Regions from separate parts of the Homo sapiens genome. Here all the other regions are linked to region 1. Evidence: fine-mapped expression QTL. A gene starts in region 1. Each other region holds a variant in brackets. All regions are shown on one strand. Distances are from middle to middle.

Region 1 (2,767 bases):
ATTTCTGATGCTGCTTTTTCATACTTATTACTTTTTCCTCAGAAAAGTCCCATTGGATTTCACAATTTCACAATGCAATAAGAAGCCTATCTGATAGTGAGTAGCCTTTAAATTGTTGTTGTTATTATTTTATTGAGTCCTCTTTGTATTTACAAAGATTAAGGAGTTTCTAACCGTATCTACACTTGTAATAAATGTTATTCTTAGTCTTCACACTTGTAAAGGATAATGGTGATGAATGCAGCGGCAGAGGCTGCACGTTCCCACCCAGCACTCTCACTGAAGACTGCCTAATCAGCACTGGCTGCTGGTACTTTTCTCTGCAAGCTTAGTCTCTTCCAGGAATGACAGGTGGTAGGTAATCCTGGGAACTCAAGAGCCTCCTTGAAGCTTGGACTGATTAGAGCACAAACCATGAGCTGTTGAAATCTGGTCCCTGAACAGGAGAGTTTTTGACATGAAGCTGCTCTAGATTGCTGTAGGGCTGGGTCTCAGATCTGGTGTATCTGCCTGTTTCCATGAAAAGAGCGGAATCTTCAAAAATACTCAGGCTGTTTGTCTATTCCTCTAATAAAACTTCTATTGATGTTATATAGAATCTTGAGCAAAAGATTTGGCATCGCACCTTTTATGAGTTTCAATAAACCTTGTGATTTAAATAGTTTCATCATTGATGACAGTCTTTGGGTGAGGCCACAAGAGAGTCGCTTCTCGAGTGTCCATTAGTATATGGTGGGAAGACAGGAGGTCAATACTAAGGCTAGGAGTGAATTGCTACTGGTGCCTTCTTGCCTCAGACCAGCGGTCTTTTCGGTGTTCATGTCATAGATTGTTGAGGTCCCCTCGTTGTTTAATGTTTTGCCTCAGACTCCCGCCTGTAAACAGTACACATCTTTCTCCCTCACTTTAGCTGCTCATCATTTAAGCTGTCATTGGTCAGACATCCTAAACTTTCTCATTGTGACTAGGGCTCTGAGGGTTCCAGGGGTTCTAATTATTATCGTGGCTGCAGTGTAGGTGTCCATCACCGAGATGGGGCACCTGAGCTACTGAGCAGCCAGAAAAAAACTTTCTCCTTATCCTTGGCATCTGCCATCAGTTTAAGTACTGATTTAGGAATCTTTACGGCAAAGAAGAGGCTCTTCATCCCCGGCCCCATCCCCACCGCGCCCACCCGGCCCACATACACCCTCGGAGCCTGCTTTCCGCAGACTCCCCTATGTCCTGTCCTTGACTCCAGTTAACCTGGAGATGCTAGTTCTGGGAACTCCTAGAGGCTCTGTTGCCTCCTCCGCCTGCTCTGCGTTCCCCGCGTGAGCGCTGGATTATTCCAGTCTTTGAGCATGGCAGATTTCCACTGGATGACATCATGGGAGCCCAGTGAATGCCGGCTCAGAGAGGGGGACGGAGAAGGGGAGGGGGAGCAGAGGAGGGGAGAGGACTGGGGAGCCGAGCCAGAGCCGGGCTGCCTGCCACCCGGCTGCTCGTCCGCTAGCTGGGGAGGAGCGCTCCACCCGCAACTGACAAAGGATGGGAGAATGCCCGCGCCCCGGGATGCCGGCCGCACGCAGCCTGGCGGCCGCCTGAGCTACTTCACCCTCCGCCGGTAAGTGACTGCAAACATCATTCATTCAATCAGCCTCACTGGGAGCCCCTTCTCTCCGGCTGGTAGTCCTGGGCGGCTTGTCCCTGATCCCGAGCGGGGCTTGGCACAGCATCAGCCCTGGAGGGCAGGCAGCAGGTGCCTTTGCCTGGTGGGTCCACTGGGGAGCGTGGCTGGGGTTCGCGGCGGGTGCTGCCACCCAACCTGCGGGCGGCGGGCTCGCCCAGTAGGCGCCTCTCTGGTGAGAGGAGGCGGCTCCAGCCCGCAGCCTGGGGTAGTTGCTACTATTGGCCCCCAGCGCCCGCTCTGCGCGCGCGCCGTTTCTGGCGGATCCCCAGTGCGCGGCGCGCTGTTTACACCGGCGTGGTACTAGTCACGGAGCCGCACCCCTCGGAAAGCGCGGAGTCGATGACAGCCACTTCACAGGCTCACGCGCTCCTAGTGTGGGCTTGAAGGGGACGGGGACCGATTACCAAAGGAGAGCGCTGAGTACGGAAGACACAGGGCAGCCTTTGTCTTGGGTTTAGCGCTGATGCGCTCAACCCTGAGTCGGGTTCACTGCAACTGTTGTGTCCGATTTCGGTTCCCTGCAACCGCCCTCCTGGGCGAGAGATGTCATTGTGTTCCTGCGGCCAGCGGGACTGAGAGCTGGGACTTAAGACGCCAGGAGGGTCCTGCGCTCACGGGTGAGTGTCGCAGTTATCCAGGTGCTGAGGGAGTTTCTGGAGCTCCAGGAAGTGGAGTGACCAGTCGAGGCAGAGAGACGCCCAAGTTTTATCCCCAAATGGTGTGAGGGAAATGGCAAAGTTAAGGGAGACTCACTCTCGCTCTTTTCTCTGGTTTCTGAAGCGCTGATTTTGGAGATTTGTGACAGGTGAATGGAATCAGAGGCATGGCCAATATGTAGTTAGAGAGCCTCACGTTTTCCTGGCAATTCTTATTGTTATTCAGTAGTTCCAGAAAAGATTTGCTTGCTAAACATTTTTGAGATCAAAATGTTTTCTATTATAGAGCTCTGTGGGTTTGACGAAAAAAGATTCTGAACCTGCTCAGGTACCTTAGTTTAGAGTTGTCTCGCCTATAAGTGCTATATAGCCAACATGCCAACACCCAACCCCCTGGCTTTTTGCTTGGCGGACACAGGTTTTATTGATGAATTCCTTG
Region 2 (2,767 bases), 840 kb after region 1:
TTCCAGTAGAGAATGTGTTATAGCTCTTTAGTTAGTACTATATAGTTTGATAGAGTGGGTTAGCACCATGGTTTGACATTTTAGCCATGCGAAGTTTGATTGTGAAGGATGGTGTCAAGTCTGCAAAGAAAAATGTTTCTAAATCAGTAAGGCATATTCTCACATTAAAATGGGTAAGTCACTTAAAACAGAAACAAAAAGAGAAAGCACAATGTCTATAAAATATTATTTTCATGTGTGAAAGGACCCAGTTCTGTTTCTCATTGGGCCCTATAAGTTTTCATACCTTATCCAGCCTAAATCGTTGGTGGTAAAACAGTGAGAAACATCCCCACACTCCCGCAGGAAACAGTATTTAACCACTGATGCCTCTAGAAAAGACATTGTTCAGATAGTAACATTTTGAGTTTGTAATGTTGTGAAAAATGTTTGCACATCCCTACACCCAGAGAAAAAATGGAAGAAAATGAAAGAACAAAAAAAGAGAGGAGGTAAGAAAAATATAAATAAGGAGGAGATTAAAACACAGAAAGGTTGGTTACTTCTGCATTTCTGCGTGGGGATTCATAAACACAGAAGGGGAGGCTCCATTCTCACACTCGCCCTCTAGGTGGCAGCAGCACACGCCAGCGTGCACCGCCCTGAGCATTTCAAAAAGCCGAAAGGGGCTGCGGGGATAAAGGGAAGGCCAGGACCCACGATAGGAATTGTGGATGGGGTTTCTGTGCGTCAAAGAGGGGATGGTGACAGCGTTCCAGGTGCCACTGTCCTTTTCTGGAAGAAAATGAAAGCACTACCGTGTCGAGTCTAAATGCTAGAAAAACAGTTAGGATGGGGTTTTGTGGGTTGTTTTTATGTGTTTATTTATTCCATATTAACTCATTTACATACCATTAATATCAAACTACATTGTTTGCAACTACATTATGTACTGTTTCAGAGAGTCTTGATTTTAAAATGTCACATTACATCCTTATTAAATAAGTTCCCTGAGGGTAGAACTTTCTTTTTCTTTTTTAAATCCAATGTCCTCTCTTGATATAGGTACTGGCCCAAGTAACAAACAGTGTGCTGTACATCCTGCAGTCGCATATGGATGGAAAAACAAAAAGGCATCCCCACCTCGCTTCACCCAATGTCTTACCCTAGAACTCTAGTGTTTTCCTAGCAATCAAGGGCAGACATGATACCCTTAGATTAGATGACACATTTAGAGCTCAGCATTTGAGAACCACAAATTTCCTCCAGGTAATGTAGTCTCTCCCCTCTCCCAGTGGTCACCCTCACTTGGCCTCTTTGTAGTAAACTGCAGAGCTCTTCTCCTCCAGCTACATGAGAAGGAAAGAAAATTAAGAGCCCTTCTCGTAGATGTAAGAAGAGGAAGCAATCTCACGTCATGTATACATAGACCCTCATAGACACCCATAAGAAAACCCCTCTCTTACATTTATTTTATCCAACCACATTTCTAAGACATGTGACTGAATAG[C/G]AATCATTTACCCTACAATGAACACGATGGTCTCAACTTCAGCCACAAAAATATCTCCAAAAACCAAGAAACTCATGGCTCCATGCTTTCTTCCATTTTTCTGTCTCCTTGCTCATTCTGTAGGCCCCCGCTGATAACTTCCCAAATTCATTTCCCACTCCTACTGTACTCCAACCCATACATCCACCTATCTTCTGAATGATTGTTTGAAAGTCTCAGCGTGTCGCAATGCATAATCCCCTACCACTTCTCACTCTAACACCTGTGGGAACGGCACCACTAACATCTAGTAGCCAAACCCAGATACACAGCTTTCACTCTGATCTCCTTCCTCTTCTACCTTAAATCAATCACCAAATCCTATTCACTCTGTCTCGAATGCCTCTGGAATCTGTCCATTTCTTTCCTTCCCTATGGCTACCATCCATGTGGAAACTATCATATTTTTAACTTGAAAACTGCAGAAGCTTCTTGACTAGACTTTCTCCAGTTTTGCCAACTTCAACCCAACCCATGCTCAGTAATGTAATCCCAGCAGATTTACAAAAACACAAATCTAATCACATCCTATTCCCACTTAACCATTAAAAGGTAACCGAAATTCCTCAGTGGGACTATGCTGCCCCCGTGACCTAGTTGAAGCCAGCTAGGCCGAACATTCATTCAGCTCCTCAAATCTATATCCAGGCCCTTGCTCAGCTTTCCTCTCTCTGTAAAACATTTCCTTCCAGCTTCTCTTGTCCACCACCACCACACACACTCAAACACTCATATATTCTCACACACCTCCCTCATCCCAACTCAGCCTTTGCAGTTTACCTTAAACATCACTTCCTCTGGGAAACTCATTACAGCTCCCTGAAGTAGGATCGTTATTCCTAGCACAGTGATTCTCAAAGTATGGTCCTGGGACCAACAACATCAGTATCACCTGGGCGTTCACTAGAAATGCATATTTTTAACCTCCTGCTTCCCTAGACCTATGAAACCCTGATGGTGGAGGCCAGCAGTTTGTACTGAAGAAGCCTACAGGTGATTCTGATGCTGGCTAAGGATGGAGAGTCACTGCCCTACCACGTAGTCCCATAGCATCCTGCATTTACCCTCCCCAGGGCTTCTCCACATTTACTGCATGGTAGATTACCTGTGGTATGTTCCTAATGCTGCAAAGCTGGGCTTTATCCCCAGAGGTTTATACTTAGTCACCCTTAGATGATTCTATCATGCAGCTAGGGAAGCTGTGCCTGACTGTGAAACTCACCACATGCCATTGCAATT
Region 3 (2,767 bases), 760 kb after region 1:
CCTCCCAGGAAGGGAAGAACAAGAGTCGTGCTCTTGGTTTTCCCCCAGAAATATCCTGGTGAGTCTTCCTCATACCCTTCTCTACCCCCACACCCTCTGCCCAAACCACATTCAACCCAGGGTGGATAAATGGAGAGTAAAGGCAGTGGAATTTCAGTCTTTGTTTTTCTCCTCCTGTCCTGCTCTTCAGCAGCAAGTAGTAGTAAGCAGAGACCCAGTGTTCCTGTATGCTGCAAATTTTTCTTCAGTCGTACCTTCTGTCTCCTTTCTCTATAGATTGTAGTAAAATTATGCCCAGAACTCCAAGATCTCTTATAGATATATAAAGCAAAAATTGGGAATTTAGAAAACACAGTTTTCTTTGTTTAAAAAAATCAAGCTTTCACAAATATTCTCTCACTGAAATCTCAGAAAAAAATCTAATACAAAATTCTAAGTAGGATAGGATCTCCTTTAACCTAAACCAGTGGTTTCTAACTCTGGATGGGCGTTACAGTCACTGGAGCAGCTTTTAAGGATACTGACATCCAGATGCTGTGCTACAGGTCCATTCCTCACAGATTCTAGAATCATCAACCTGGGCAAAGGTATTTTTTAAAAACTTCCCAGCAATTCTTATTTTTAGACAGGATTGAGAGTTACTGGTCTAAGACTGTTATGTGTCTTCCTTCTGAACAGGAGAATACCATTGAGTTCATGTGTGGGGAGAAAAAAATGACATACTGAGAATTAGTAAAAAGAATTATAGTATTTCAAGATCAGTGTCCTATTACAACTCTTAGACACTCTACAAAACAGTTATCAGATCAATGATTTCATGTTATTATCCTCACAATCCTTTTATGTGGATGTTATTATTGACTACATTTAATGAAAGGGGAAGTGGAGCTCTAAGACTTTAAATAAGCAAAGAGTTTATCACTTAAATAGTGGAGAACAAAACACAAATCTTGATTCTTGATGTTAGTAGTTGTCATTTATGACATCATCAACGTGACCAAAGAATTACTTTTCTCATTATTAAATTAGAGATTTTAAACATTACGAAATATACAGCCTGAGAAATAAAGGTTTCCAATGATCCCAACTCACAGGTATAATCACTGCTAATGGCTAGATGTGTACTTTTCCAGATTTTTTTCTGTGCATACACAAACAGATAGCAATAAAGCACTATTTACCCTAACAAGATGACACTGTATACAATTTTGAAACTTTATTTTTCTCCTAAAAATATATTCTATAAATGTGTGTGTGTGTGTGCGTGTCTCTCTCTCTCTCTCTCTCTCTCTCTCTCTCTCTCTCTCTGTGTGTGTGTGTGTGTGTGTGTGTGTGTGTGTGTGTG[TGG/G]TGTACCTCATTCTTTTTATGGCTTATGTATTTCATTGTAAATAATGAATTAACACTTGGGTTGTTTCCAACTTCTTGCTATTACAGATAATGCTGTAATGAACAATCTTGTAAATATATCTTTGGACAATTATAAAAATGTTTCAGCAAAATTAATTCCCATGAGTAGAATTTCCAACTTTAATGGTATACATTTTTTTATTTTAATAGAGTTTATCAAATTTCTCTCCAAATAAGTTGTACCAATTTACAGTTACTTCAACAATATATAGCAACGCGTGGCTTCCCCACCTCGGCTACACTGGGTATTATCAATCTCTTTAAAATGTGCTGATCTGATAAGTTAACGTGGATACCATTGTTAATTGAATTTACATTTATCTGCTTATTGAGATTGATCATCTTTTTACACAGGGCTTTTGGCCATGTATAATTCCCTTTCTGTGAACTACCTACCTGTTTTGCTCATTTTTCTGTAAAACTGATCAACTTTTCCTTCTTGATCCGTGAAAGATCTCCAAATACTAGAGAAATTAGCTATTTGGCTATCATATATGCAATAAAATGAGGCATTATTTATGAATTCTGGTTTTGTCCAGGATGGTTTTGGTATATGGGTGTATGTGTTTCCTTTTTATAAATTAGAAGTTTTTATTTTTTAGATCATCATATTTATCTGTTTTCCTATATCACATTTTGTTTTACATCATCATAAGAAAAGGATTTTTTCCACCTATTATAAACATTAATTAAACATAAATTATGTTTTTCTCATACTTTGATGGGTCTTTTTTTTTGCTGTATTTAAATCTTGCATTTGCCTAAACTTTACTGTAACCAGTAGACTCAGGTTTACATTCTTCCAAATGACCAGTCAACGCCATTTTTTTAATAACCTACCTTTTCCCACTAACTAGAGATGCAAATTTGTCTGTACCGAGAAACAGAAAGATACATATAGACAGATAGATTCCTAGCCTCTCAGTTCTATTCTAATGATGTGTCTTTCCCTGTGCCACGTGCATATTCTGTTAATTTCTAGAATTATACTACATTTAGATGTCTGGTAAAAGTATCCTCATTTCTGGATCCTACTGAGTTTTATTAAATAATTTTCCTGAATCTTTTCCCCTGTGTCACTTTTTCAGTTGATCTTTCAAATTATTTTTACCATATCTTAAAATAAAACAACCTGTTGGGATTTGATTGCTCAAACTATCCCTTTTCTCCATCCTCACTGCATCCTGGATATATGGAATCCTAACTCTGCTCTTTGCTTTCAGACAACCCTGAACCTTCCAATTCTCAGCTGCCAAAATGACCTTTCTAGTACCCAGATTTAATAAGTTCTATTTCCTGCTGAATACTTGCAATAACTTTTCATTCTTTTCAGGATGCAATCCAACACGTCAATGTAACA

The links.
Region 2: its variant is fine-mapped to the expression of MARCHF1 in sun-exposed skin (GTEx, PIP 0.94).
Region 3: its variant is fine-mapped to the expression of MARCHF1 in lymphoblastoid cells (GENCORD, PIP 0.95).

What each region holds. Positions count from the first base shown.
Region 1 is chr4:164,382,709-164,385,475 of GRCh38, reverse strand. It overlaps MARCHF1 (membrane associated ring-CH-type finger 1), which reads left to right and starts at 1,457. Exons shown (of 10, transcript NM_001394959.1): 1 at 1,457-1,606. RefSeq lists an enhancer at 1,728-2,229.
Region 2 is chr4:163,542,427-163,545,193 of GRCh38, reverse strand. The region is part of intron 9 of MARCHF1 (membrane associated ring-CH-type finger 1); the gene reads left to right. Among named protein-coding and RNA genes, the nearest start is that of TMA16, 49 kb to the right of the region's middle. The variant C/G (reference allele first, on the strand shown) is at 1,490.
Region 3 is chr4:163,619,148-163,621,914 of GRCh38, reverse strand. The region is part of intron 5 of MARCHF1 (membrane associated ring-CH-type finger 1); the gene reads left to right. Among named protein-coding and RNA genes, the nearest start is that of TMA16, 130 kb to the right of the region's middle. The variant TGG/G (reference allele first, on the strand shown) is at 1,346.